6 separate regions of the Homo sapiens genome follow, and all the other regions are linked to region 3. Evidence: fine-mapped expression QTL. A gene starts in region 3. Each other region holds a variant in brackets. All regions are shown on one strand. Distances are between the middles of the regions.

Region 1 (5,101 bases), 64 kb before region 3:
GATTTAAGATGATTTTAAGACACTTGTAATGGCATAAGGGTGAAGTTTGGGGAAGCTTTCAGAAATCCACTGTGTGGAATTACCAACGATTCTTCCCAGGAGAGAAAAGAGGTATATGAAAAATAATATGACAGTACAGGAAACTCTGGATTTAATGTTAAAAAGATATATGCATAAGATGGATTCCTGCCTATTTTTTCCCTCTGCTTTTAAAACCTGCTTTCTTACAAAGTCTAGAGTACAGCATTTTTTGCTCAGTCTTTTACTTCTTGACTTTTTTCCTTTCTCTCAACACTCCAGTCACTTCTACTTTACTAATTGATTCTTTGGCAAAAATCACTCCGAAGGGAGCAGTTCACACAGGCAAGCAAGAATTTGTCAGGCACTGTGCTTTTAGGTGAATAAAGTCCAGATGGTGCCTTGTCTTTACATTGTTTTGATTCTTGCCAGTTCTAGATGGGAATCATCATCAATGGCTACTACATACCACTGCAAGAAAATCACTTCTATTCTTTGCTTCAGCTTCGCCCAAAATGTCCTGTGGGATGCTTTCGCCTTTGTATTTCTAAATCTCCATGTAGGTATACTTTTGGCAACAGAGCTACTTTATCTCCCCACTTGTAGCAAATCTGTTTCATTTTTAATATTGCCACATTCCAATGGCAGGTTACACCGTGGTTGATGAAAAGGAATTTAATAGTTTTACAGATTTTAACTTTTTTTTTTTTAATTTTTTGAGACTGAGTTTTGCTCTTGTTGCCCAGGCTGGAGTGCAGTGGCGCAATCTCGGCTCACTGCAACCTCTGCCTTCCAGGTTCAAGCGATTCTCCTGCCTCAGCGTTTCTGAGTAGCTGGGATTACAGGCATGTGCCACCACGCCCGGCTAATTTTGTATTTTTAGTAGAGACGGGGTTTCTGCATGTTGGTCAGGCCGGTCTCGAATTCATGACCTCAGATGATCTGCCGGCCTTGGCCTCCCAAAGTGCTGGGATTACTGGTGTGAGCTACTGCGCCTGGCCCAGATTTTAACATTTTATCTACTTGTCTCTTTCATAGAATATTTGAAAATTACCCCCCCAAAAACTAGTTTCTAAGCTATGGAAAAAGCAATCTCATATAAGAATGAAATCTCTTTAAGATATTTCACATTTGTGCATATGTAGAGGAAGGGTAAAAGCATAAAATGAAGTATCATACTTTTGGAACTCATATACTTGCAAAATTTTATAACAAGATGGCTTTATTTTTTAGACAGCTTAGTGGAAAAGCACTGGCTCTCCTAAAGTTTTAAAATGTTGTGACTTAATTTAGAGTATAGGCTTATTAAAAGATAAAGAATAATGGTTTTTTAAAAATTATTCTTTCTGTAATTTCAGACCTCAGCCTTTTGCCTAAATTTCCTTTCACTTCTTTGTAAAAAGGATGAATATTTTTAGTACACTGTCCTGGCACAAATCCTCCTTACAGGCTCAGATTTTCTCAGTGGTGACTAAAGCAGTTCAGCTGCTTCCAAGTTCTACATTTCATCTCCTTTTCTGTTGCACCTCCCTCCTCCCCAGCCCCCTCCTTTGCAGCTGCTTTATTGGCAAAGCTCAGATCCTTTGATAGATCTCAATCCCATCATGGCCCTTCAAAAGAAGAATTTAAGCTCACCTTTTATATAGCTTTTCTGATAGCCACAATTTCTGCATTAAAAATCTGAGGGATGACAAAGTCCCTATGCATACTAGTTAGGAATTTCTTAGAACCTCTCTTCCATTTACTATACTGTTTCCCATGTTCTTTTGGGTGTTTTTCATATTGATGGTTGGATATCATTACAACAATTACTTTTGGCTGTTTTTAGGTCTTCAGCTGCTACTGGGATACCTCTTCTATATTTTCAAAGTAACCAGTGTCATTTCATAATTGTTTATTATACAGCTTAAGATATAAGCACCATATACAGATTTCAGTAAAAGCAAAATTTGAAGCTGTTTTCAATTTAGGAAACACATCGTCTATTTATAAGCAATTTGATGTGTATAGTTTCATATCAGCAATCCGTGCAGTTTTCTCTTTGGTGTGTGCAACTAGTAAGTTCCTTTAACTATATGTTGCCAAATAGAGCTTTGTTATGTTCTCATCTTGTTGTGTGACTTGGATGTTGACTGCAGCCTGGGAAAAAAAACTGTTGTAGAGTCTATCAGAAAAGAAGAGGCAGCTTTACAAATGGCATCTCCCCACAGCCCTCCATTGCATTTGTTGTGCATCTGGTTGTCTCTGTTGCTGGTTTTTCTGCTTTCTTGTAGTCTCAGTTTCAGATGAGTGCCTCTTTTAGGGGGGAGAGGCAGTGGCAGCAGAGGAAACATTTCCCTTGGCCCACCTCCAAGCAGCACTAAGTGTGAGTCTCATAGGAACCTCTTTAGATTGAAAACTCATCAATTTATATCTAAAATGCAAGTAGTTCTTCAGTGAACTGTGCTTCAGGTTGATTGTTAAGTACATATGGCCTCCAGTTTTCTCTTATTTTCATTCGAATTTACATAGGCTAAAGCTAGTGAAGTTTCAGTAGGTGTACCGAAAGCTCAGAAATGGAATTCATTTTAACTCAAGCCTTTTAAGAAATAAATACTGCCTTTTAGAGTAAAAAAAA[C/G]CTACAACATTAAAGGATAGAGAAACGTCTAATAAAAACAAATGACAAAATTTGATTAATTTGCACTTCAGATTGCTTCTAATTTAGCGTGAGGACTGATACTATTTACTTTAGCAAAATGTGTGTGTGTACATGTGTGTGAATATATATCACACAAGTAGTCAATAAAAAGGGGTATTTGGGAAGAGTGTTAAGTAGTTGACATACTTCTGTAATAAATGCACCCAAATTAAAATTAAGCTATGTCTGGCCAGGCGCAATGGCTCACGCCTGTAATCCCAGCACTTTGGGAGGCCGAGGCGGGCGGATCACGAGGTCAGGACATCGAGACCATCCTGGCTAACACGGTGAAACCCCGTCTCCACTAAAAATACAAAAAATTAGCCAGGTGTAGTGGCGGGCGCCTGTAATCCCAGCTACTCGGGAGGCTGAGGCAGGAGAATGGCGTGAACCTGGGAGACGGAGCCTGCAGTGAGCTGAGATTGCGCCACTGCACTCCAGCCTGGGCGACTGAGTGAGACTCCGTCTCAAAAAATAAATAAAATAAAATAAAATTAAGATAAATTAAACTATTTCTCTTCTCCACTCCCCCCCACTTTTGTGCTCACCTTCATTCTCTAGTACCATGCCCCAAAAGCAAATATGTCAGTGAACTCTGAGAACCTTTGAACAGGCAGTTTGCTGTAAGTACAGTGTTTATATTTATGACATATTTACGATATATTAACATATTCCAGATGTAATGGCCATCAGAATTCAGCAAGCTGGATTCAGTTGCCAAATAATTGAATAGTGAACTAAAAGCTATAAGCATTGAACTGAAGAGAAACCAGATACAAACCAAATACAAATACAAACCAACGCAAATACAAACCAAAGCTTATGATAGAGTTGGGAGGGTGATTTCAAGGGAAAGGGGTGAGATGAGGTGTACTCAATAAACTTTAACTGATACCTGCTGTCTGCCAAGTACTGTTCTAGATGATACAAGGGTGAAGGACAGATGGGTACAATTCGTGCTCTCAAGGTGTGTTGAGACAGGTATAGCTATAATTGCAACCGTTTCGATAAATATTCTGTTAGAACCATGCACTGGGAGATGTTTGTGTCCACCAAGGGCAGCTAATCCAGCCTGAAATGGTCAAGAATGGCTTCCAAAAGGAAGAGGTAACATTTAAGCTTCATCTTAATGAGCGACAAGGAGTTCCCAGGCATTTGAAGAGAGCATTCTAGAGAGAACAGCGGAGGCAAAGAAGTGAGAGAATATGTGGTCCATTTGGGTATAACAGTTCTATATTGTTCATAGTTCACAAGGGGTAATGAGATCTGGGGCTGAAAAGGAGGAATAGCTTGGTTCATCGGGGACTCACTTGCCTCATCCTGATTTTAAGTAAGGCTATGGCTTGATCTGGTTTGTATTTTTAATAAATATAACCCTGGTAGTATAAAGAATGTATTAAGATGCAGGGAGAGTCAATAAGTAAGATTTAGGGGGATAAGATAAGGCCCAAATTAAGACAGAAGCACTGCAGTGGGGTTGAAGAGGAGTTGAGGTATTCGAATAATGTTTTGGAAGTAAAGTTGAAGTTTTGTGATTTATGGGTTATAGAGGTGGGGCAAGGAAAGTTAATCCTCAGATGTTTGACCAGAAAAATTAGATGTCTGGTACCTTTTGCTATGATAGGAATGTAAGGGAAGATTAGATGGGCTGGGCAGGAAGGCAGAAAGGGTTTGAGACAGGTTGAGGATGACATGTCTCTGGAACTTGCAGATGGAAATGTGTAGTTCTGAGATGATAGCTCAGGTAGTGAGCTACAATGACTAATGAAGCCATAGCTGCTGTAGCCCACGGAGAGCCCAGAGAATGACTAAAGAATAAGGCCGAAGACAGAATCCTGGAGATCACTAACATCTCAGAGTCCGTGAAGAGAATGAAAAAGTGAGCACCTGGGGAAGTAGGAAGAAAACCAGCAGTGGGGCCTCTTGGAAGCCAGAGGAAGAGAGTTTTAAAACAATGTTTTTAAAAATTGCCTTCATTATTCTAGTTGTCTTCTCACTTTAAAAAGTTCATGTTACATTTTAAAAAATCAAATTACTTTCCCAAATTTACATAAATGGAGTCTTTTTCTTCCTCATCTGACAGTGATCCTAATGGCCTAGTGTAAAAAAATATACTGATGATCCCCAAGCTTACTGAATTTCATAAACTTAAATGATCTGGGTTTTCAGGTTCAGAGAAGTTAATGATATTTCCAGTATCACTGTGGCAGCTGTTTCTAGTTTGAAGATGATTTATATGTTAAATTTTAAAGGATGATGAAATACTTCTTGTGAAAGTTTCAAAGTACTCTACAAATGATAACTCATTGTTATCCAAGTGATAACCAAATGTTTTAACACTTACTCTGACACTGCATTTGCTTGTTTGTATATGAGCCAGTGGCATTGGGCTGTCAGCACAGAGCT
Region 2 (4,686 bases), 85 kb before region 3:
GCCTCCCAAAGTGGTGGGATTATAGATGTGAGCCACCATGCCCGGCCCCAATATATTTTCTTACTCTACCCTCCTTGCCCAAAGGGAGCATTTATTTGTGTTCCTTGAAAAAGAAGCATCCATTGTGCCTTGCCTTTTTTCACTTAGCAATTCTAGAGACCTTTCCATATCATGAAATGATGTATTTTTGTTTTGTAGAGCTAGGGTACGGTCTTGAACTTCTGCCCTCAAGCAATCCTTTCACCTGGGCCTCCCAAAGTGCTGGGAATTAGAGGTGTGAGCCACCATGCCTGGCTCTGAAATGATGCATTTTAAATTCCACTGAAATTATTATGTCCTGGGCTCCTGACAATAGAGATACCATAGGCTGAAGAGAAATTTTGTTGGGAATTTCAGTATTTCCAAAATTCCAAAAGTCTTCTTTTCCTCTCCATGGCAATGCTTGGAGGTGTGCAGTCTAGTCTACTGTAAGTCACATGTGGGAGGGAGGGAGTGGATGCTCTCCAGGAGCTGGGAGATGACAGAGAGACATACAGGAGTGAGAGGAGTGTGGGCCTGTGCTCAGACAAGGGTGAAGAGCAGCTGCCAGGGGGCTTACCCCGCCTTGGGGTTGAAACTCTGGAGAAAGAGAAGATCCTACATTGTATAAACCCTACATAAGCAAAGTGGGAACCCAAAGCAGGAGACTGTCTCTCTGGGAACCCTTGAGCCAAAAGGTCAATTCACTGGAAGCCAGCTGACCCCCCAAAGGGTGAGATGAGCCCCAGAGACTTCACGTAAGACAAAAGTGCAGCAGTATCCAGAGCTGCTTCTGGTCTGTCTCCTGGTGGGAAGAACTGAGTAGAGGAAGCTTCAACTGGTGTCTGCAGGAGTCAGGAGATGCCTGGCCTAGGGCTTGGTCATGGCAGGGATAAAAGCCCATCACTGTTATCTTCTACAAGGCCTGCTGGCCTAGGCAACTCCTCAGCTTCCCCCAACTCTTCCTGTGAAGTTCAGAAATGAGTTTCTCAACCAGCTCAAGTTGCTCAGCTTATTTTTCTCTCACCCAGCAATTGCTCCCCGACCCTGAGTTGGCAGCTGTGAAAACATAAACATTGTCAAAACCTCCCTTGCACCTCCCCCGTCTCTCCCTGTCCCCAGTACTGCTGGGCCCACCTCTGTTCCCTGCTCCCAAGGGTCCTCCCTCACCCATGGCCTCCATCCGGGCAGTACCCAGGAATGTGGGCCCAGGACAGGCAGCTTCCCTTTCCCTCGGCCCATCCGGGGCCATGGGGGAGGCACAGTTCAGCTCTCTCCCTGGGCTCTGGTGGACACACAGCATCTCAAGTAGCCCTATCTGGATTCCTAGACCCTGGTACAATCACTGGCAATTGGTGATGTGGGGAAGGGATCTCTACCCCCTGCCTCTGTCTCCAACCCAAACTTCAGGCTTCCCTGGCCCCTGGGCAGTGCCCTCACTCCCCTGCCTCTACTTGATCCCCAGTGCTCGGTGGATTTGTGCCCCACCTTGGCCATTAGGGCTCCCTGCGCCTCCCTCTTGGAATAACACTTCCTATCTACTCTTTTCTCCTTCTTCCACATTTCTTTTTCTTTTTCGAGATGGAGTCTTGCTCTGTTGCCCAGGCTGGAGTACAGTGGCACAATCTCAGCTCACTGGAACCTCCGTGTCCCAGGTTCTCCTGCCTCAAGCGATTCTCCTGCCTCAGCCTCCCAAGTAGCCAGGATTACAGGCACCCATCACCACGCCCAGAGATTTTTTTTTTTTTTTTTTGTATTTTTAGTAGAGACAGGGTTTCACCATGTTGGCCAGGCTGGTCTCGAACTCCTGACCTCAAGTGATCAGCCCACCTTGGCCTCAAGGTGTTGGGATTACAGGCATGAGCCAACATGCTTGGCTGGTCACCTCCTCTTTTAAGGGATCCCAAAGTGCCTTTCTTTTCTCTCCCTTCTCCCCTCAGGTTACAGGGCCATTCATTAAAGTCAGGTGGTCTTTCTACAGAAGAATTTTTGCTTTAGTAGGCAGTTCAACTGAGATGCTGTTGAAAGTGTCTATATCCCTGCAAGGA[G/A]GGATTTTTTTTTTTTTGACCGAGTCTCACTCTGTAGCCCAGGCTGGAATGCAGAAAAAGTATTTGATAGAATTCAACACTCATTCATGGTTTAAAAATAAAAAACTTCTTAGCAAACAAGTAATTCTTAAAAATAATCTTACAAAGGCATTGTAAAAGCCCTATAGCAAACATCACATTGAGTGGTGAAATATTGAATGTTTTCTTCTGATATTAGAAATAAATCAAGAAGACATGCTATCGCTACTTCCATTCAACATTGTGCTTGGATTTTACCAGTGCAATAGGGCAGGAAAAAAAATAAAAATCTTACGTCTTATGTATTGGAAAAAAAGAAATAAAGTTGCTATTATGCATAGGCAACATGATTATGTACATAGGATTTTTTTTTTAATCTACAGATAAAGCCTGGCACAGTGGCATGTGCTTGTAGTCCCAATGCTTGGGAGGCTGAGGCAGGAGGATTGCTTGAGCCCAGGAGCTCAAGGTTGCAGTGCACTACAATCATGCCTGTGAATAGTGTCCTCCAGCCTGGGCAACATAGTGAGACTCCATCTCTAAAAAAAAATTTTTTTAAATCTACATACAAACCCTTAAAATCAATAAAATTTAGCAAGGTTGCTGGATACCCTCTCTATATACAAAAAACAGTAGATTCTTTTTTTTTAATCTTTTTTTTTTTTTTTTTTTTTTTGAGACGGAGTCTTGCTCTGTCACCCAGGCTGGAGTGCAATGGCACAATCTCAGCTCACTGCAACCTCCTCCTCCTGGATTCAAGAGATTCTCCTGCCTCAGCCTCCTGAGTAGTTGGGATTACAGGCGCCCACCACCACACCCAGCTAATTTTTGTATTTTCAGTAGAGACAGGGTTTCACCATGTTGGTCAGGCTCATCTTGAACTCCTGACCTCAGGTGATCCACCCACCTCGGCCTCCCAAAATGCTGGGATTACAGGTGTGAGCCACCGTGCCCAGCCAAAAACAGTAGTATTTCTACTAATAGCTACAAACAATTAGAAAGTGAAATTCTAAAAATGAGACCATTTACAATAACATCAAAGCAAGACATATCTAGAAATAAATCTAATAAAAGATGTATAAAACTACATACTACATCACTGACAGAAATTAAAGAAGACCTAAATAAAGGGTGAGAGGGATATATCACATTCATGGATTGGAGGACTCAAGAATATTCATAGCAGCGCTACTCTAAATAGCCTGAAAACTGCAAACAATTGGCTGGGCATGGTGGCTCACGCCTGTAATCCCAGCACTTTGGGAGACCGAGGCGGAGTGGATCACCTGAGGTCGGGAGTTCGACACCAGCCTGGCCAACATGGTGAAACCCCTGTCTCTACTAAAAATACAAAATTAGCTGGGTGTGGTGGCACATGACTATAATCCCAGCTACTCAGGAGGCTGAGGCAGGAGGATCACTTGAACCCAGGAGATGGAGGTGGCGGTGAACTGAGATCGCACCATTGCACTCCAGCCTGGGCAACAAGAGCGAAACTCTGTCTCAAAAAACAAACAAACAAACATTGCAAATAATCCAAATGTCCCTCAACTATAGAATAAACAAATTCATTGTGCTATAATTATACAATTGAATATGAATATTCACAAGAAATGAATACACTTCTGCTTCATGCAACAACATACATGAATCCCGTAAATATGATGTGGAGTGAAAGATGCTAAACACAGAAGATCATGACTCTTTGTGATTCATTTATATGTAAAATTTTATTCATAAAAAGTTCAAAAGCAGATAAAACTGATCTGGTGTTAGGAATCAGGATAGTGGTGGTTCTTGCTGGGGAGTAACAACGGCAAGGGCCCAGGAGAGAAGGTTTCTGGGGTGCTGGCCACCCTCTATTTCTTCATCTGGGTGGTGGTTTCACAACTGCTCTCGCTTTGTAACAGTGAAGCCATGCATTTATGGTTTGTGTACTTTTCTGAGTGTATGTTTTAATTCAGTAAGAATTTTAATTAAAAAAAGTAGGGGCCGGGCGAGGTGGCTCATGCCTGTAATCCCAGCACTTTGGGAGGCCGAGGTCAGGAGATCGAGACCATCCTGGCTAACACGGTGAAACCCCGTCTCCACTAAAAATACAAAAAATTAGCAGGGCATGGTGGCCCACGCCTGTAGTCCCAGCTACTTGGGAGGCTGAGGCAGGAGAATCGCTTGAACCCGGGAGGCAGAGGTCGCAGTGAGCTAAGATGGTGCCACTGCACTCCAGCCTGGGTGACAGAGCAAGACTCCGTCTCAAAAAAAAAAAAAAAAAGTAGGAAGTGGCAAATTGTGACGCAAAGGACTTCTAAGGCTTCTCAAACTCAGTGACCTGGCTGCCGTCCGTGTCATGTGCTGCTGAGCAGTAGAGCTGAGTACTTTGTGTTTGTTTTATCGTGTAATCCTCTCGGATTAAATGCACTCTGTGAAATCGGTATTATTCTTTTTTTTTTTTTTTTTTTTTTTTGAGACGGAGTCTAGCTCTGTCGCCCAGGCTGGACTGCAGTGGCCTGATCTCGGCTCACTGCAAGCTCCGCCTCCCGGGTTCACGCCATTCTCCTCCCTCAGCCTCCCCAGTAGCTGGGACTACAGGCGCCCGTCACCA
Region 3 (4,978 bases):
CCCCGTGTTCTGTATGGGTGAGGTTGCCCAATAACTGAGGGGCTGTGATATCAAACATGATCTTTCCAGTTTAGCCAAAGTAGGGTCCCTCCACTCTGTCAGCTCTGTCACCCAGGCTAGAGTACAGTGGCACAATCTCAGCTCACTGCAACCTCTGCCTCTTGGGTTCAAGCTGTTCTCCTGCCTCAGCCTCCCAAGTAGCTGGGATTACAGGAGCATGCCATCACGCCTGGCTAATTTTTGTATTTTTAGTAGAGACAGGGTTTCACCATGTTGGCCAGGCTGGTCTTGAACTCCTGACCTCAAGTGATCCATCCACCTTGGCCTCCCAGAGTGCTGGGATTACAGGCGTGAACCACTGCACCCCGCCTAAAAACCAGTCATTTCTAAACAGTGTGCTGGCAGGCTGAAGGGTTTAATGACAGTGCCTTGGGCTGGGGTGGGGGAAGGCCCAGACATGGGCCAAGCTGGCTGGGCTGTTCCTAATATAACACCTGTGGCCAGAGTAGTGTGCCTTTTCTGTTTTACAGATTTGTCTACAAATGAAGCTTCAGAATATTGTTCTAGCCACCTTGTCTGATTTTCTTACCCCTCTGGGAGATAAGAGGGGTTACCTCTTATCTTACCCCGAAGCCAAAAGATCCAGTGATATGTCAGATAGACAGAGGGATCCTGCAACAACACAAGTGCTAAAGCCAGCCTGCCAGGGGTTTAATCCCAGCAGTGTGACCTTGCGCAAGTCTCTTAATATCTCCGTGCCTCAATTTCCTCATCTGAATAAGAGAGATAACAGTAGCATGTGTTTGAAGGATTGAATGAGTGAATATGCATACATCTTGAGAACAGCGCCTGGCACATCTTTCGTGCTCAGCAAATGTTAGTTGTTATGCACTGGGATGGGCTGAGCATCAGGAAGAGGTATTAGAATCCAGAGCCCTGGGGCAGGTGATGCCTACAGTGACCTTTCGGGGCATCGGCCCAGACTCAGTGTGAGAGGTTCCCACTGGCTACTTCTCTCCCCTTCCTGCTCTGGCCTTCCCTAGGGAAACTATATGCCCGCCCCAGGCTCAGGGAGCCAGACACAGAGGAGACAAGGCACTTGGAGGCCAGGAAGCCCAGAGGTGCGACGAGCACAGAGTGTGGGCAGGATGCCGCTCAGGAAGCTCCACAGGGGCTGGCTGCTTGCTTCTGCTGCGGCTGCCATACCCTGCTCCCTTATACGCCACCCCTACCTGTGCCCAGATCCTGCCATGGAGGCTGCTCCTTGCCCAGCTCTGCCCTAGGGAAGGCAGGCCCAGGGGCTCTAGGACTGGACAGAGGTCTCAGTGATAAAATAGTCAAGGGGTCCTGGCCTGCCCTGGGCTACAGAGTGGCCTGGGTTTCCAGGCCCTACCCCTTCCCCCAACTTTGCACACCAAGGCAGGGCAGCTAGGTGGTGACTCACATCCCCCATCCCCCAGGGCTCCAGCTGCCAGCCTGGGCCCTGAGCATCCTGGTGCCTGGTCCTCCGGATGGGCTGAGGCAGCTCTGCCTCCATTGGCTTCTCTGGGCTGGGCCCACCCTGTCTTTGTAGAGATGGGGAAACTGAGGCCCAGAAAGGCACAAGGTGCCCTCCCCACGTGGGGTCCTTTGCCTACTGTACAGTCAGAGCAGAGGAAGCAGAACACTCACACGCTGGCCACAGGCCCCAAGTGGAGCCGGCCGGAAGGGAAGGAAGGCCTGGCTCCATAGCTCTCATCCTCCTGGCTGCAGCCCCAGGAAAAGGCCCGGGGAGGGCAGGGCTGTTGGCTGGGGCTCAGCCGGCTGAGCCGAGGGCCAGAGCGTCCTCTTCGGGGTTGGAGGCAGCACCCCGGGACAGCCACATTCCCCAGCTCCAACCAGAGAGGTCTCAGTTTTTCCCCAGAGCCCTGGGCACAGCCAGAGCTGAGGGGCAGAGGGGTAGTTGAAGGACAGCTGGAAAAGTGCTGAGATGACCAGGGGTCCAAGCTGGGCTGCAGGCTACGTGGCCCGGGCCAAGCCACTTTACCTCTACCACTGGCTGGGCGCCCTTATTTCATGGGGGAAATGACTTGATTTAAGCCCGTGTTGAATTTAAGAAAGTAAGCAAGCCATTGCCCACCTGGCTGCCTCCTTGAAGGACCCCTAAGGTCTGCAAGGGACAAGGGGCTGGGTGAGGGGAACAGAATTACCATTTGGAGTGAGGCAAGGTGCTGGGGGCTTTAGTGCCTTGGATCCCCTTGCTGATCCAATGCTTTAGTTGGTGTGTTGATTTCTATTTTATCACCATTATATAGATGGAGAGACTGAGGCTTGGAGACAGAAATGACTTGCCCAGCCTGTAACAGAGCCAAGACCTGAACTCAAGTTTGTCTGGTCTCTAAATCTGTGACCCCTCCTTTGCTGCCCCACACATCCTCCTCAAGCCCCCACCCATGTGTTACCCTCTTCTGAGGAGCTCCTGCTGTGGGGAGAGGTCTCCCAGAGGAGAAAACACACGGGGCAGCAGAGAGGAGGACGCTCATTCACGGAGTCCACTTGCGTTCCAGTCCAGAAGGGGTGGGGGCCTGGGCCACCTCCATGACAATTAAGACCAAGAATCAACCACTATTTTATGAGAAAGCTCCCCTCTCGGAGCCGCATCCCATCACCTGCATGGAGATTTCAGCCTAGCTCTGCCCCCTCCACTTGTTCAGTGCCCCCAACCATCCTCACTCACCCAAAAGGCATCTTTGAACTGCAGCTGGGGCATCATCCTCAGGCGTCTGCCGCGGCAAAGCTCACTCTCCTGCCACAGGCTGGCCTGATGGAGGGCCAGGCGCCAGCAGCAGCGTCCCAGTCCTGGCAGGGCTGGCCCAGGCCCCCCTTCCCGGCCGGCGCCGTCTGCAACACTCAGAAGGCAGCCACGAGCCAGAGAGGAGCTTCTGAGGGGAGGAAAAAGCTCAACCTGTTTTGTTTGGGGCTAGAATCAGCAGCAAAATGAGGAAGGAGTGGAGCTCAGTGATGGGAGGGCGGGCCCTGGTGTCCAGCCCAGCCCCTCACCGACCCTGCGGTGATGGAGGACACAGTCTGGGACCCAGGGCAGGGAGCAGGGATGCCAGCCCTGGGTGGGAGGCAGTGGCCAGTGGAAGAGGCAGGCTGGAGCTCGGGCCGGGCCAGGCAGGCAGGCAGGCAGGCAGCCCGAGGCCTGCGCAGGAAGGTTTGTGCAACCTCCCCCGGGGCAGGCACAGGGCCCTCGCCCACAGGAAGTGGAGTTGCTGTGCTCCCCTGTGCAGCCCCGCCTGCCACCTGCCATCCTGCTCCTGCCTCTGCTTGCCCCCTCCCGAGGTGCGGGCTCACTTTATTCCAGAGGCCATATGCTAAGGGAGCTTGAGGCCCACTGACAGTGTGGCCAGGAGGGGCCCAGGAACCCCAGGTGTGTCACCCGCCAGCCAGTCCAGCACCCTTCCAGGCTGGGCCCAGAGATGCCAGACTCCCCACCCCGCACTAGCAAGTCATTCTGGAGGGGCTTACCCAGGTCTAGGGCATCTGTCATTCATCAAACCCTGGCTGCTCTGGGACCCAAACCAGGTCCTGCCCTCAAGGAGCCCATAGTCTGGGAGCAGACACAGCTGTGCTCTGGGGGGCTGTGAGCACACAGAGGCAAGGTGAGCAGGCAGCAAGATGAGGGAGAACAGCCTGAGGCCCCGGCACTGCCCCCACCACCACCACCGCCACCACCGCAAGTCTCCAGATTAGACGCTGTTTGGGGCAGAGAACCCCCTTCTGAAGATGGAGGCTTCCGGCTCAGTGAATGGGAATGGATGGAGAGAGAAACAGGATTATCAAGGCACAGAGTGGGGTGTTTGGAAACCCAGTCTGAGGCCCAGTTTTTGTTTAATTTTGACCCCACCTTTCAGGGGCTGAGGGACCTTAATAGACCCCCCAACTCGCTGAGCCTCAGCTTCCTCATCTGCCACACCCAGTCTTTGGAAAGTAGACGGTGTCGAGAATATTTCTGGAATTTCCAGTTTGGTGGGCAGGTGCTGGGGGCACTGTGTGGTACCACCTTAGGAAGAGCCCTGGACTAGAGCCCCAGCCCCAGCCCTGAGACGCCACGCCCTGCCGGCTCAGCAGAAGATGCAGCAGGAAGTCCTGAGCCCAGGGCAGGCTGGCAAAATGGGGTGAGTCAGGGATTGTCCGCAAATCACCACCCTCACTGATGTCTGCCTTACAGCTGACGGGGTGATAAGATGAGAGCTGCTGCAGATGAAATAGTTGAGCTCCCAAGTGCCCATTATGCATGCCCAGGGTTTAGAGAGAGGGGGCACACCCAGGCTCTGAAATAGCCACCCAAGAGGAAACACTTTGGGGAGGATTGCAGAGCAATGGGACTGCCCCCAGAAGGCCCTCACCTCCAGAAACCTTGGATTTGAGCTAATCTTTAATCTGTAAGGCGCCCCAGTCAGGTTTTTTGTTACTTGCAGCTGAAGACAATTAATAGTGTAAAAATCCCCTTGAACTTTGTAGGCCATAGAGTGAGCCAGGCTGCACCTCACCTCCCAATGGCACCACCACCTCTGATAGCACTGGCTCAGCCTCCCTGAGCTCAGTTTCTCCATCCATCAGATGGGATGATGCCTCTAGGTCTGGAGCAGACTAGAGACCCTCTGTTAACAGAAGGCTCCTGCCTGCTTATTGGCAGAAATTTTTACAGCTGGGCTCCCTGCCCTGCCTCTCTAGGTGTCCTTCCCATCACCTCCCAGAGACTTCTGCTCCAGCCAGGCCTCTTCCCTCTCCCTGGAGGCACCTTTCCCACTCCCACCTGCTCTGTTCCCAGCCTCCCTTCTGGCAAGCCTTCCTTGATCTTCCTTACCTGGGCAAATCCTCCCACCCTCAAAGCCAACCTCAAGGCTCCCACACATGAGGCCTTCCTTTCCCAACTGTACCTGTCCAGCCAGGGCAGCCCCGGATGGAGGGCCATGCTGGTGACGGGCTGGAG
Region 4 (4,980 bases), 45 kb before region 3:
TAATAAGAAATCTCTGGAGACACACTGTCTCCATGTACATACCCTGTTCCTCATGAGACTCTTCCCCATTCCCCGACCAGGTTCAGCAAATGTTGCTGATTCTGGCCTGATTCAATCTTTATGATGACTGCCAAGCGACGTTTCTGCAGCCCAGCACTCCTTCCTCATTTGCCAGTCATCCCTCCCTTCTCCTTCATTTATTTTCATATATCCACTATGGATTCCCATTTTTTCAAAAGTCGACTTCATCATTGACCTTTGGGGATGGGGGAAGAGTTCCTCAGATAGTTCCCGACTTGGCCAGCGAGAGCCCCTTCGAGTGCCTCCTATATCCCAGCATTTTTGGAAGCACTCCCCTAATTTCTGATCTAACAAGATGTTCCAGGCCCCTGGGCACCAGCCATGGATCAGTGTTTGTCCCAGGAGCCCTGGTCCCTGGCACTAGGTGTGCTTATTGCAGCTGGGGTGTCTTTGCTTCTTGTCCTATAGATGATTGACAGAGCTTGTCTTACTGCCTTTTTTAAGTGTATTTTTTTAAACAAAAGTAATTGGTGCTTTAAAAAATGTGAACAATACAGACATCTGTAAAGAAGTACCCACAGGGAAGCAAGTTCAGCAGTTCAGCAATGGCATGTGTCTTTGCAGACTACATACACAGAAACAGACTTGGTATTGGGTTTTGGTTTTTGCTTTTTGCTAATAGGAATTTTATCCTACAAGATCCTCTTTCTGTCTTCACAACATAGTCTGATGCTCCTTCCATGTCTAACTGTAGGATTTGTCATTCCATTGTGTTAGCTGTGTGGGTACATTAGTACCATGATTAACCAAGGTGTATAAAGGGCAGGCCTGCAGGCTGCCTCCAGTGCCTCCACTACTCGCCACAGTGATCATCTCTATACACACACTGCAGTCATTTACAATTTTTAAAATGAAAACAATTTTTATTGAGATGCAATTCACATGGCATAAAATTAACGATTTTAAAGTAAAGAAGTTGCCTTGAGTACATTCACCATGCTATAGAACCACTGCCTGTATCTAGTTTCAAAGCACTTTCATCACCCTGTGTCATGTATTTTTACATGAACTCCAAGGGTGGATTCTTGTTAGTTGGATTTACTCTGGATGGAAAAGTCATGTTTGGCTGGGTGCAGTGGCTCATGCCTGTAATCATAGCACTTTGGGAGGTCGAGACAGGTGGGTCACTTGAGATCAGGAGTTCAAAACCAGCCTGGCCAACATGGTGAAACCCATCTCTATTAAAAATACAAAAAATTAGCAGGGCCTGGTGGCATGCACCTGTAATCCCAGCTACTTGGGAGGCTGAGGCAGGAGAATCGCTTGAACCGGGAGGCAGAGGTTGCAGTGAGCCGAGATTATGCCACTGCACTCCAGCCTGGGTGACAGAGCAAGACTCTGTCTCAAAAAAAAAAAAAAAAAAAGTCACGTTTAAACATTTTCATGGATACATCTGGTTGCTCTCCAGAAAGCTTATATCAATTTCTATTCCCACCAGCAGTGAATGAAATGTGCATTTCTTTACACCCTTGTTGACACTTTTGGTGTGATCAGCCTTCATCTTTTCTTCCATTCTGAGAGATGAAAATATGTGTTTATTTGACTGTTAGCTAGGGCCAGGATGCTTTTAAAGGTGTTTCAGCCATTTGTATCTTCTGAATTTTGCTTCTGTCCTCTGCCCGGTTTGATTGGTTATTGGGTTTTTTTCTTTCGGATCTTAACAGAGTTTACTTAGGAAACTTTTCTGTGAAGCTTAATGTCTGTAGCTATTGTGAATGCAATGGTTTTCCTAACTTATTTCCGAGTTGGTGGTT[G/A]TTGGTGTGTAACAGCACCTGCTTTTTGGGTGCATCCTTGCAGTTCTTGAAAATAACTTGTGTGTTGCACGTGGCTTTCTATTGCAGTGCCTGTGAGATCTGTGAGGTCTCCTGAGGGTGTAACACAGTGACGTGGCAGAAACCTCGTATCTACTGAATGGTGCTGCTGCATTGCTATTTGTGGGGAAGTTGAGTCATACATAAATCCTGCTCCCCTGAGTTTATCCAATGAAGAAAGTAAGACAGATGTAGAAATTATAGGGTAGAAAAGAGACTTGCTGATCTTTTTTTTTTTTTCCCCGAGACAGAGTCTTGCCCTGTCATCCAGGCTGGAGTTCAGTGGCACGATCTTAGCTTACTGCAACCTCCGCCTCCTGGGTTCAAGCAGTTCTGCCTCAGCCTCCCACATAGCTGGGATTACAGGCGCGCACCACCACGCCTGGCTAATTTTTGTATTTTTAGTAGAGACGGGGTTTTACCCTGTTGGTCAGGCTAGTCTCGAACTCCTGACCTCGTGATCCGCCCGCCTCCGCCTCCCAAAGTGCTGGGACTACAGGCGTGAGCCACCGTGCCCGGCCTACTTGCTGATCTTTGTTATCCCACCATCTGGCAGGTAGTGGGCACTATCACCTGAGATAAGTCACTATGGTGCCATAACTGTTTTTCAAACTTTTAAAAATGTTTAGCTGAAGATCCTGTTAGCCAGGGGTTTCTCAGCTCCGGCTGCGTATCAGAATCACCAGGAGAATGTTTCAAATATTTATGCGCAAGCTCAGTTTGCAGGGATTTGGTTTCAGTTTGTCTGAGGTGGGACCCAACCATCAGCATTTGAAAATCTGCTCAGGTGACTCCGTTGAGCAGCTGGGTTGAGAACCACTGCACGTGCAATATGTAAACTCTCCAAGTAGATCTCGAAGTGGAGTGGGTGCCCCCTTTCTCCTCCCACTGGCCCCTAAGAGGGCTCTACTGAGCACAGTTTGATAATCCCGTGAGGGTGCTGAGGGCAGCGAGCCCAGTTGCTGGTGCGACCTTGTCCTGGGCTTGTGTTGGCTCAAAAGCCGGGATGGAGAAATAGGCAGACACCCAGGTAGTCAGACCAAGGCAAGCAGGTGACCCTTATGCTGAGGTTTCTTGGCCTAGGAAAGGCTGTGAGAGTGGTTGGAATTAGGTGTTGGACACCAGTGGCGCGTGCTTCCAGTTTGGCCAAACGTGAGTTGCTGCTTTTTGTCATCATTGCGAAGGATTCACTGACATAACCACAGCTGTCCCAGAGGGTGTGCTGAGCGAGGGGGATTATGCCAAGCGCAAAGCTGCTGTTGAGTGTAGCCAAGATTCAGAGGTTGTGGGTCTTTTCCTTAAAAGTGGTATCCCTTGCTGGTAAGTAATACCTAATCATTGTTTAATTTGAACCTTAGGAGATTTTGCATGGGGGCATATTGCACCCATCTTACTGATGCTGAAACAGGCCCAGAGAAATTGTGACTTGCCTAAGACCACCCAAGAAAGCGTGAGCCTGGATTCAGGCCCTGATGTTGTGATTCAGAGACCATGCTTGTCCTCCTGCTCCTTGCTGTCTTTGAGTGGCCCTCGGTCAGGAAGAGGCTGCAGTTATTTATACACCCAATTACACGCTAACTCCCTCTTTATCTGGCACCGTCTCTGCTGGGAAGGCCATCCATCCATGCAGTTGGTTCCCAGCAGCTGAGGTGGTGCCCAGTGATGGGAGAACGGAGAAAGCTGCAGAAGCAGTGAATCTGACTTGGATTCATTTGTGGGCATTCTCCCCCTGGCATAAATTGTGACCCAAGAGTTGCTTTCAGTTCTATTCTCTGGCCACCCGAATGACTGGAGAACAGACTCTGTTATCTAGCACTTGTTACCCATCACGCTCTGGGGCCCACAGACACTGCGGCACCTGTCAGAGATGATGATAAATATCTAGGCCAAAGGTTTTTTAAAAAATCTTTGCAGTGGAATGGAATGTTCAATCAAGATGACAAGGCATCTTCAAGGAATAAGTAAAGTATTGATACCTTTTTACTCTTTCCTTTCCCTTCCCTGCCCACACATGGCCCCACCCAGTGGTAAGCCTACGCGGCTGTCCCGCCTCTCCCAGCCCTCGCCCAGGCTTTGTTCCCGCACCACTCCCCTCCAGCTCCTCCACCTGGGGAGGAGCCCATCTTCAAGTCTGGGCTCCGAAGTCACTCCTCACCTCCTCACTTTCCCTCTCTTCCCACCCATCTCCCATCCCGTAAGTTACCAAGTCCTGTCCATCTGCTCCCTGTGTTCTTCCAGAGTTGCTCTCCAGCCCAGTCACCACTTCCCAGACAAGCCACCCTCCCCTCTGCTGGATGGCCTGCACCAGCCCCTGGAACCACTCCCCCCACTTACTGCCTCACATCTCAGGGCCTAGAGGGTGGCTGTCTGTCCTCCTGGGCTGAGTGAGCTCTTTGAGGCCCCTTTTAGCACCACACCCCCATCATCAGGTACAGTGTGGGCCACACATGAGTCATTAGAATGTCCATGTCTCATGCTTGCTTAACTGAACCCAATTTTTTGCTCAAGTAAAGATCAGGGTATAAAGATGGGCATTCTGTCTCTCTCCCCCTCCCTCCTTTCTCTCTCTCTCCCCCTCCCTCCTTTCTCTCTCTCTCCCCCTCCCTCCTTTCTCCCCCTCCTTTCTCTCTCTCTCTCTCCCCCCCTCCCTCCTTTCTCTCTCTCCCCCCTCCCTCCTTTCTCTCTCCCCCCTCCCCATGGGGAACAGCAGTGCCCTGCAGCAGCTCATCAGTGTGGTCCCAGCAGAGGAGGACCACTGTGTCCCCCATCCCGCCCCTTACAGTCCTGGGCCTGCCTGGCTCCGAAGCCGGGTGGGGATCCCAGGAGGGTGTGAGGTGGGCCGGCTTGGCCACTCCCAGGACTGAGGAGTGGTCAATGGCCAGGGGCCCTCTCCTCCACACCCACTCCCAATGCCTTTGGCATGGATGAAGCCTATCATGGTTGGAGCAGGGCTTGGCCAGCAGTGAAAGTTATGTTCCTGGGACTAAAAAGAGAAGGGGCTGAAGGCCTTCAAGAACAGCTCCCTCTGTGCCCGGGGCCAACGTGCCTGGGCTGTGGACCCCTGCTCGGCCGGGGTTGCCATGTTGAG
Region 5 (4,380 bases), 37 kb before region 3:
AAAGTAGTCCTGGTGGCTCCTCCTTCCCCAGCTACGCCCTCCACTGGCGCCCTCTGCAGGCCATCTCAGCACCTGCTCCCTGCAGGGCCCTTGGGAGGATCCTAGAACCCCCGAAGCTGTAGCTTCATTGGAAGACTCCCATGGCCCTTTGGGGGTTCTAGGACCTCCGCACTGAGGCCTCGTGGGAAGATGCCCAGTCCTCACCCTCCAGGCCCCTGCTCTAGCTTGCCCTAGCAGCTTCCCCCATGGGTAGGGGTGGGGGGTGCACTGCCACACAAAGCCTGGCTCACGTGCCCTGCTGAGGCCTCCACTGCCTGGGCCGAGCCAGCCCTCCTCCCTGTGGGCCCACGGTGATCAGGCCAGCTCAGCCACCCTGTTCACAGGAGTTCCGGGACAGCGCTGGGCTACTTTACCCCTGCCCCTGCACCAGGCTTAGGCCTGGACTGAGCTGGGGTCATGAAGGTTTACTGAATAAAGGAAAATAAAACAGAAGAGGCAGATGCGGCAGATGCTGGGGGCACCCCCTGAAGTGGGCAGTAGTGAGGGCTCAACAAGTAGAGGCTGACACTGCCTCCAAGGCAAGAGGGCTTCTTAGTGGGGTGGGGCTGAGTCTTCAAAGATGAGTGAAGCTTTACTAGGAGAGAAGGGGGAGCGAGGCACTGCAGGTGACCAGGAGAGGGAGGGCTCAGGTGCAGGGGAGGAGGCATGGCACAGGTGGGGTTTGTGGAGTGGAGTGGACCAATTTGGGTGTGTGGGGGACAGGACTGAAATAGAGACTGGACCAGACCCTGAGGGATCTTGAATGCAGGTGAGGGGCTGAGCCATGACTCAGGGGCCTGTGGGGGGCAGCCCTGCAATTCAAGGTGGCATGTGGGGGGCCTTTCCCACATGAGGCGCCGAGGGCCAAGGCCCCAGGAGTGCACACACATGCGCAGGGTGGACATGCGTGGACCCAGCACATGGGAGGGCCTGACACCAACACAGGCGGGCAGACACACGTGCCAGCTCCCCAGGCAGCAAAGGACAGGGTGCAAGCCAGCAGGGGCTGGGGACAGGTGGAGGAAGCGGCCAGGGCAGGGGGAAAGGGGTGCAGGGCTTGCTGAGCCATTGTGCTGCGTGCCCCCACACCTCTTTTCCCCAGACTGTCTACACTTCTGACTCCCAGTCACTGACCCCCGCCTCTTCCCAGTCCTGCCTGGCTTCTAGATGCCCCATCCAGAGGCCTGACCAGCCCCCTCCAGCAGCCAGGCCTCCCTCGGCCCTGCAGGACATCTCTCTCTCTCTCTCTAATCCTCTCTGGGGCCACTCCTTTCTGCCCCTTCCTGATACTGCTTCAGGTGAGCTCTTTTGTCCAGTTGCTTAAATGACCACCTTTGCTGGGATCCAGGTCCTCACCAGGCACAGGGAAGCCTGTCTCACAAGCTTTTGTAGCATGTGAGGCTGCGGGTGTGCTGCCTCCTGGGGTCACTGCTTGCACAAGATTCTCAAAGAGGGTGTGTGTGTGCCCTCTCTAAGCACGGGTGGTTCCCACGAGCCTCTGCCTCCCAGGAGTAGGAAGTTCCAGGGGCTCCTGAGGCCCTGGAATGAGCTGGTCCTTGGGAAGGGCCGGGAACTGCATCAGCCTCTCCCCACAGTCCACTACCTCCCAGAGGCAGGGCCTTCTTGGTTGAAGGGTGGCTGAAGAGTGGTGGCATGGCGGTGGGGGCACAGGCACCATGTGAAACCCACAGACCCTTGTGGATGCTCACAGGGCACATGGCCTCCCTCAAAGGCCTGGCTACGAGGGCTCCCTAAGCTGGCTATAGTGCTCCCAATGGGCTGTCACCTTCGTCACTCAAGGCCTGAACCAGGAGAGTCCTTAGATTCTGAATCTGACCCCAACACTCAGGGCCCTGGCCTTAGAGAGTGTGAATGACTTGCCCAGGTCACACATTGAGGCCCAGCACTAGGACCTTGGCACTTGACTGCAGCCAGGCCGGGGAAGGAGCCCTGGAAAAGCCTGGAGAATTCTCCAGATGCCCCAGTCCTGCTCCAGCCAG[A/C]CAGCGTTGCCACTGCAGCCTGACAGGGCACCAGGCTCACATGAGGCCCCAGGGACAAGGAAGCCAGCATAGGGGCCTCCCCAGAGCTCGGAGCACCTCCCCTAGTGAATAATTGGGGTGTGATTATTCTAGTGTCTGGGTCCCTTGGGCTGAGGGTTCCATAGGCTGAACTGAGCCTATCTTGTCTCCACAGAGTGCCCAGCACCTAAACTGGGCACCAGATACAGACACATAGTAGGTGCTCAGTGAACGAGGAAGGGCCAGGTGCAGAGGAGGGGCTCGACCCACTTCCTGGCCCAGCCTTAGGCCCTCCCTCCGTCTGTCGGGGCCTCACCTCTTTATCATGCCGCAGGACGGCTGTATGCCAGGGCTGCTGGTCAGCGGGGTGACCTCCCGATCGTAATAGTTCTGGTAGGGCACCGGAGCTGCAGACAGCAAGCCGTGAGCCCCAGGGCGGCCCCCAACACCCCATTCTGGCCCTGCCAGACTCAGCTGGGGCCCTACATTCCCAATCTGGCCCTGGCCCATCCTGGTGCCTGAGGAGGTGCCTGTCTTGCTCCCATGAGAGACCCCACCGTAGGTACCATCAAGACCTAATATTCTGGACCCGTGATCCAGTGGAACCAAACAGGCGGGGAGTGGGGGCCGTGGGAGCTCCTCACCTCAATCCCCATCCCCACCTCTTCCTCTGAGTGCCATCATGCCCTTAGCTTTGCCTGAGAGGAGGCAGCAGGCCTGGGACCCAACTCCCCACAACCCCTGCTAGGGCTTCTCTGCCCTGAAGGGAGCTGTGAGCTACCCCAGCCCGGTCCTGGCACTTGAGGCTCAGGGCCGGGCCTTCCCAGGGGCTCAATGCACCTAGAGGCTGCGCTGTCCGCAAGCCGGACCTCACCGGGGGGCTCTGTGCCCGTGCTCTTGGCCTGGATGAAACTGTCGATGTCGGCGTCTATGCTGCAGCCTTCCAGCGTCAGCCGCACTTCCTCGTAGAGCTGGGGCAGGAAAGAGCAGAGGCCGCAGCCCGATGCCCACTCTGCCCCTCTGTGGGCCTGAACTCTGACCAGCGGCCCCCACCCACCGGCCTCCTCACAGGCCATTGTGCGCGGCTCGGGGTCTTTGATCCTGAGGGGTCACGGCCCTGGCTGACAGCTTCCTGTTTCCTGAACACCTTCTGTGTGCAAGGCCCTGTGCAAGGGACTTAACTCACACCTGTCCTCTAAGGTAGACCCCACTTTTCCCATTGGATAGATGAGGAAACTCAGAGGAGAGTGACTTGCCCAAGGTCACAGCGAGAATGCAGCACAGCCAGGCCTTGGGGCTAGGAGAGTGGGTCCAGAGCTCGCCCTTCTACCTCAAGGAGGCGAGGAGGCAGCAGGGGGCTCGAGTCACTTGGGCAAAAACAACAAGAAAATCAACCCCCACAGCCCCGGACAGGAGCGTCAGGCAGGAAACACAGCAGGCAAGGGGGCCAGGGCTGCCCGGGAGAGCCGTGTGCTGGGCTGCATCCATCCACAGAGCTCAGGGACCCTGGCTGGGGGCCCTCTCTGCTGGGGAGGACCCACCCAGCAGGTTGGGCTCAGTAAGGGGAACCAGGACACCCTGGAGATGTGGGGAGCAGAGGAAGGACTGCGCCTCGGCTCCTGCAAGCACCAGGCCTAGAGCAGAGCAGCCACGGTCCTCCAGCTTCTGCCAACCTCTGACAGCTGTGTCCACCTCCCCTCCCATCCCCGGCAGAGGGGGCAGGTGCTCTGTGGCTCTGAGGCATAAGGAGGAAGTCAGGGGAACCACAGAGTCATCATCTTCCAGGCAGAGAAGCCATGGCCCTGTGTGGTACTGAGCTCCTGTCTTGGGGTTCTGGGGGCAAAGGCTGAGCTGCTGAGGCCTGAGACCCCTGGGGCCAGGCTTGGATCACAGAGGACCAGGTGCTTGTTGACCGGCTCAGATGGACCTGGGTGCTTTGCTGCCTAGAGGCTGCCCTACCTTACCCCACACCAAGGCCCTCAGCCCCCACCTCATCATCCTTGACACACTGCATGGAGAGCTGGTTGCTGTGCACCCACAGGGCGTTGCGGAGAATGGTCAGCCGGTCAAACTCTTGCAGCTGAAAGGCCTGGGGGCAGTGGGAGGGAGGTGAGCAGTGAGGAGGCGGCTGCAGGGCCCGGCCAGGCTGGGCCCCATTCACAGCTCAGCCGGAGCTGACCAGGCCAGCCCTCTCTGCTGGAAGCCCAGTCCAAAGGAGAGAGTGCCCTGGGGTCCCCATCCCGACTCCGGGCCAGCCCTGAGGCTGCAGGGAGGGAGGTGGAGATGCCCAGGGGGTCCCTGCCCCAGCCTCCCTTCAGGCTGC
Region 6 (5,182 bases), 24 kb before region 3:
ACTTGCACCCCTTGGGGGCTGTACCTGCCCACTGGTAACCACAGAGGGGCTACAGGAAGCTGGCCTTGCCTTGGTTTTCCTTTGTTTCCCAAACCCCTGCCCTGTGCAGCTTCTGGGGGCATGCAGCACCCCCAGCACCTTACCTGACGCAGGATGAGCAATAGGGGAGTGGAGGTGACAGCTTTCTGAGGGAGGTGACATTTCAGGCAGGCCTTGAGGGATGGGTGGGACTGGGCAGGGGAGCAACAGGGCAACAGCAGGAGCAAAGGCCCAGAGGCTGGAAAGGAGAGTCAGGCAAAGTCTCTGCAGGGCTGGACATGTGATGTCAGCAATGTTGGTAAGCCCCCTGCAAATACTAACACTATCTTTTTTTTTAAGATGGAGTCTCGCTCTGCAGCCCAGGCTGGAGTGCAGTGGTGCAATCTGGGCTCACTGCAACCTCCGTCTCCCAGGTTCAAGTGATTCTCCTGCTTCAGCCTCCTGAGTAGCTGGGACTGCAGGCTCGCGTCACCATGCCCAACTAATTTTTATATTGTTGATAGAGACGGGGTTTCACCATGTTGGCCAGGCTGGTCTCGAACTCCTGACCTCAGGTCAGCCTCCCAAAGTGATGGGATTATAGGCGTGAGGCACGGCGCCTGGCCCTAATGCTGTCTTTAAAATGCACTGAAAGCGCTGGTGGGGATCCCTGGAGTTTGGGGACTGGGTCTTACTTGTCCATCCTCCATTGCCACTGCCCCACGGATGTTTGCTGAGTTAACATGTGAAGGAGGTACATGTCAAAAATCACTTAAGATGTAACCTCCTGTTAATTTCAGTGGCCCGAGCCTCCAGGCCTGAGGGTGGCTCCCGGCTGGTTTGAGGTCAGGGGACTGCAGAAATGCAGTACCTTCAGGCAGCAGTTCTGCCCTCAGGGCTCACTAGGCTATTTATAGGGTCACTTAACCACCTGGCTTTTGTCCTCGTTCTGCACCCTGTTCCTAGCCTTCCCATCCCCCAGTCCCCTGCCCGTTCTGCAAGGGGCAGGGAATGAGCATCCCATAGACCTGGGGGGCAGCTGTGGGCCTCAGGGAGGCCAGGGGCTTCCCCTACTCAGGGATGGGCCCTGGAGGGTGGGCCACCAGCCCCGATGTTGAAGAGCCGGGTCACCTTTCCTGAGGGCCAACACACACACCCCCCCCCCCCACAGGAGTCTAAGATGAGGAAACAGGTCCACGGCCACTGCTCACACTTCCCCACCAAAAGCCCTTCAGGTTGGCATGGGGAGGGGTAATTGGGTCTAAGCCAAGACTCTGACAGTAAGGCAAGGCAAGGTGTCTGGGAGGGCTTCCTGGAGGAGGTGGCGCATAAATGGGCCCTAATGCAAAGGACTAGGAAGGAGAAGGAAGTCACCCTCACTGTGCTGGACTCTGGCTAAGGAATGGCAAAGCCCTTTATTTTATTTTAAATTAGTGAATCCTCCTGACCCATCCAGGGCATGGCACATAGTAGGTCCTCAATTAAATGGTGACTAAATGGATGGAGGATGGATGCTTGGCCTACACCGAAAGGAACAGCTGCATGGCCTCATCAACAGTACTTCATGCCACATGGGTCAAGAGCAACACTATGGAGCCCCACTGTGTGCAGTGAACCCCTGTGGCTTGGCACTCTCTGCTTGTCCTTGTGACTGCCCAGAACACCTCTCCAAGTGACCATCCCCTTCCATAGGTACAGACCCTGGACTCAGAGACAGGGAGGACCATCCAGGGCCACACAAAGGATAAGTCAGGGCAGACCCTGCCCCACCTGGCCTTGAATAACCATGGCGCAATCAGGGCCGCCCAGAGCCTCCACCTGGCCCCTTCCTAGTTCTACAAATGGAGCAAGATGTTGCGTACCTCCTGCTTCCTGAGGCCCACCCTGCTCCCCACCCCCATTGTATTTTCTGTGGGTAGCTTCTCTTTCCCTGCTGTAAATCCCCTGTGACTCACAATCCCCTGAGCCTGCATCACACAGACCCACTCCAGCCTGGCTCCCATTGTGCCCTGCTGGGGCCACCCTCTCCACCTCTCCTGAGTCTCTGAGTTCTCCCCATGAGGTACCCTCTCTTTCTGGGAAAGTTCTCTTCCAGCTGGCCTGGAGGCTGGGAGGCCAGGAGACCAGGAGGGGCTCCCCTGGTCATGCTGCCAGGCCCCCACAGCTGCTCCTCCCCTGGCTGAGAGCTCTGGGCACTGCTTCCTGCAGAAAACACCTCCCTGCATACGTCCATTCACTCCTCACCATGTCCTGAGCCCTCCTCTGTGCCCAGCCTGCACCCGGCCCTCAGCCCTTCCCTTGGGAGGCCCTCAGACCATGTTCTTGTTGATTTGCA[C/T]GGCAGCTCGCTGGAGTGGGAGGTGAGAAACAAACTTGGAGAGGCTAGGCGACTGGCCCACAGTCCCACAGCTCAGATTGGCCGAGCCGGGACCAGAGCTCCAAGGGCTCCTCAGAGCCCTCCGTCCTCCCAGGGCTGTGTGCAACTTTCTGGCCTCACACACGGCTCATGCCACATCTAAGCCTTCCTGTGATCTCTGGCTCCTGGTTGGAAGCAGGAGCCGCCAGGGTGCCTGGTGTCTTTGGGGGACCTTCAGAGTATGGCACATTCAGTTCCTCTCTCGGGGGAGAAGGCAGGAAGGGAAGGGGTTCCACAGCAGCTGCAGGGTCAGGCTCAGGGCCCCTCGGCAGGAGGACTCTGCAGAGCCCTTTCAAGAAGTTGGAGGCCGGTGGTCTGTCTGCCCCTTGGCCTGGCTCTGTCCTCACCCAGGGGGACAGTCTGGGCCTTCCCAGAGCAGCCCCTCCACTCCACTGTTAGGGTGGCTGTGTCCTGAACTCACCTTCATCTCCTCACCTGGCCTCCCACCCCAGCAGTCTGCGTGCAGAGACCTGTGGGGCTGGAGACTCCCGCTTCATCAGAGCCACTTCCCTGACGGCCTGCCCTCTAACCAGGCCTCAGCTAAGCCCATGGGCCCACTTCTTCCTTTGAGGAGGGCTGCGTTACTTTCCCATCACTGATGAGGAAACGGAGCCACAGAGTGTGTCAGCAGCCAGCCCATGGTCAGACAGCTGGGGGGTGAGGAGCTGACACCGGAACCCAGGTGTGTCCCCTCCTGGACCCCTGTCTCTGGCTACATCTCCATCCTTGAAGCCCATGCTGAGCCAGTGCTGCAGGGGACTTGAGCCACCAGTGGAGACGCCTGTCACCTGCCCCTCAGGACTTCAGTGGAGGCCACCCAGGCTGGTGCAGACTGCGCTGCAAATGACTGAGGATGGATGGCCTCCTGTCTCCCCTGCCCAGACCCTTTCCAGAACTCAGACCCTCGGGCTTCCTCCCTCACAGAACCTGGCCTCACCCTGAATGCCCAATAACCAGGCACCAAGGAGCAATCCAGACCTACCCTGGTTCTGCCCAGCCTCCCCCATGCCAGGAAGACCTAAACCTCATCTAAAGGCCCAGAAACTGCCAGCAGAGGAGAGGAGTGAGCCCCAGGGCCCGGGAGATCTTACTTGATCTCCGTCTGGCCACCTGCCTTCCGTGCGATCTGCACCAGCTCCTTCCCGTACCGCTCCTCCGCCTGGGCCCTGCAAAAAAAAGGGCATTTGAAAGATCATCAGTGACTTGCCACCTCTGGGGGAGGCCCAGGTTTGAGGGAACACAGAAGAGTTTTTTAAAGCAGGGCGTGTTCTGACAGAGTTTGGCTGGGATGGGGGCCTCGTCCACTGTCCCAGGAGCCGAGCGGAAGCCACCTGCTTCCTGCCTGCGCTCCCCATGGCCTGCCCAGCAGCTCACCTCTGCCTCAGTAGCTCCTCCATGTCTTTGCACATCTTCCTGCCATCCAGAAGCCGCTGCAGCAGCACCTCGTAGCCCGTGTGGGCTGTGAAGTCCCTGCACTGTGACACAGGACAGAAGGACACATGAGGGCCACGACCAGGCGACACTGAGCACAGCCCTGTGGGGACCCTCCCACCATCTCTGGGAACAGCCTCCCTCCTGCCTCCATCTCCCCTGCTCAGGGCAAGCTCTTGGGACTCCAGACCTGGCTTTACACAGGCACACAGGAGGTCCCCTCACATCTGCAGAGGTGACAGGTACATAAGTGAGCCCCACCCAGCTGACAGGGCCGGGGGTGCCGGGCCTGGCATCTGGAGAGCTCACAGGACAGGACACACATCAGCATGAGATAGCAGATGGGAAGAGCCACCCTTAAGTCCCCCTGATGACAGCCAGGCCTGAAATTCACTCACTCACAGTGCCACCCTTCCAATATCCCTATCTCAGCTAAGTGGGGAAACCGAGGTGTAGGAGGGTGACATGTGATCGTATCCAGAGCGGCCCAGCTGGAAAGTGGCTGGCCTGGCCTTGAACCCCAGGCTGTCTGGCTGGGGTCCCTGCCCTTCACCTCAGCACTGTGCAGTCTCCATGACCATCACAGCAATTGCGGTTTCTTGGGCACCAGCCATGTGCCAGATGCTGCGCTGGGCTCTCTGTGGGCTCAGGAAACCCCCCCTCACGGAGATCCAGGGAGGTGGGCATGGAGGGTGACTTCAGTCCAGGTCAGAGCATGCGCAAGCACACCCTACATTCACCTCTGGACTGGGGTGGGGTGGGGAGCCTCAGAGAACTCTCCAGGGACAGCTACCCTCTGCTGCCTGGCACTTGCCCTGCTTGCCCTGGCTGTTGTTCCTGGCCAACCCAATTCTCCTTTCTCACTGTGCAGTGGATTCCAGGTGTGTGTCTGAGCTGCTGGTGTGGGAAGCTGGGTGTGAGAAGTTGGGGGAGGGAGGTAGTCTTTAAGGACTATGAAGGAACAGAGGTCTCCCAGGACATTCCCAGGCTTGGGGAGTGGGTCCCGGGGCCAGGATCCCCGCCACAACCCCCTGAGCTCTCCCAGGCACTGCACGCAGGCTTACTCCAGGGGAGCTTGAGAGGTGCTGGGGAGACAGGATTTTTGTCACCAACTGCACCAAGGCAGGCCTGACATTCCGCACCTAGTCTGTCTTCCTTTCTATCCCTGAGGACCCCTAAAGCCTCAGAGACTGGAGGAAGAAGTCCCAGCTCCCCTGACCACACACATTACAGTCTCCAAGGTCACGCACACTCCAGGGTCGCACACACATGACTCAGGTAAAGCCTGGTACTCCTTCCCCTGACCCATGTCTCCCCTCA

Evidence for each region. PIP is the estimated chance that this variant, and not a neighbour inherited with it, causes the effect.
Region 1: its variant is the best candidate, but not a certain one, in a credible set for the expression of PSTPIP1 in whole blood (INTERVAL, PIP 0.50).
Region 2: its variant is the best candidate, but not a certain one, in a credible set for the expression of PSTPIP1 in whole blood (TOPMed, PIP 0.78).
Region 4: its variant is the best candidate, but not a certain one, in a credible set for the expression of PSTPIP1 in whole blood (TOPMed, PIP 0.66).
Region 5: its variant is the best candidate, but not a certain one, in a credible set for the expression of PSTPIP1 in whole blood (TOPMed, PIP 0.50).
Region 6: its variant is the best candidate, but not a certain one, in a credible set for the expression of PSTPIP1 in lymphoblastoid cells (GEUVADIS, PIP 0.55).

Annotation. Positions count from the first base shown.
Region 1 is chr15:77,057,164-77,062,264 of GRCh38, reverse strand. All of the region lies in intron 1 of TSPAN3 (tetraspanin 3), which reads left to right. Among named protein-coding and RNA genes, the nearest start is that of TSPAN3, 11 kb to the left of the region's middle. The variant C/G (reference allele first, on the strand shown) is at 2,636.
Region 2 is chr15:77,078,556-77,083,241 of GRCh38, reverse strand. No RefSeq gene overlaps it. Among named protein-coding and RNA genes, the nearest start is that of TSPAN3, 9.8 kb to the right of the region's middle. The variant G/A (reference allele first, on the strand shown) is at 2,067.
Region 3 is chr15:76,993,348-76,998,325 of GRCh38, reverse strand. PSTPIP1 (proline-serine-threonine phosphatase interacting protein 1) reads right to left here and starts at 3,200. Exons shown (of 15, transcript NM_003978.5): 1 at 2,717-3,200. The coding sequence starts at 2,752. RefSeq lists a silencer at 3,016-3,205 and an enhancer at 3,446-3,495.
Region 4 is chr15:77,037,850-77,042,829 of GRCh38, reverse strand. It overlaps TSPAN3 (tetraspanin 3), which reads left to right. Exons shown (of 7, transcript NM_005724.6): 7 at 1-1,426. Among named protein-coding and RNA genes, the nearest start is that of TSPAN3, 31 kb to the left of the region's middle. The variant G/A (reference allele first, on the strand shown) is at 1,836.
Region 5 is chr15:77,030,946-77,035,325 of GRCh38, reverse strand. PSTPIP1 (proline-serine-threonine phosphatase interacting protein 1) reads right to left here. Exons shown (of 15, transcript NM_003978.5): 10 at 4,048-4,146; 11 at 2,932-3,028; 12 at 2,374-2,464. Among named protein-coding and RNA genes, the nearest start is that of TSPAN3, 38 kb to the left of the region's middle. RefSeq lists enhancers at 1-196, 197-834, 1,472-2,109. The variant A/C (reference allele first, on the strand shown) is at 2,040.
Region 6 is chr15:77,016,872-77,022,053 of GRCh38, reverse strand. It overlaps PSTPIP1 (proline-serine-threonine phosphatase interacting protein 1), which reads right to left. Exons shown (of 15, transcript NM_003978.5): 2 at 3,806-3,906; 3 at 3,523-3,597. Among named protein-coding and RNA genes, the nearest start is that of PSTPIP1, 24 kb to the right of the region's middle. RefSeq lists enhancers at 2,064-2,193, 2,383-2,955. The variant C/T (reference allele first, on the strand shown) is at 2,354.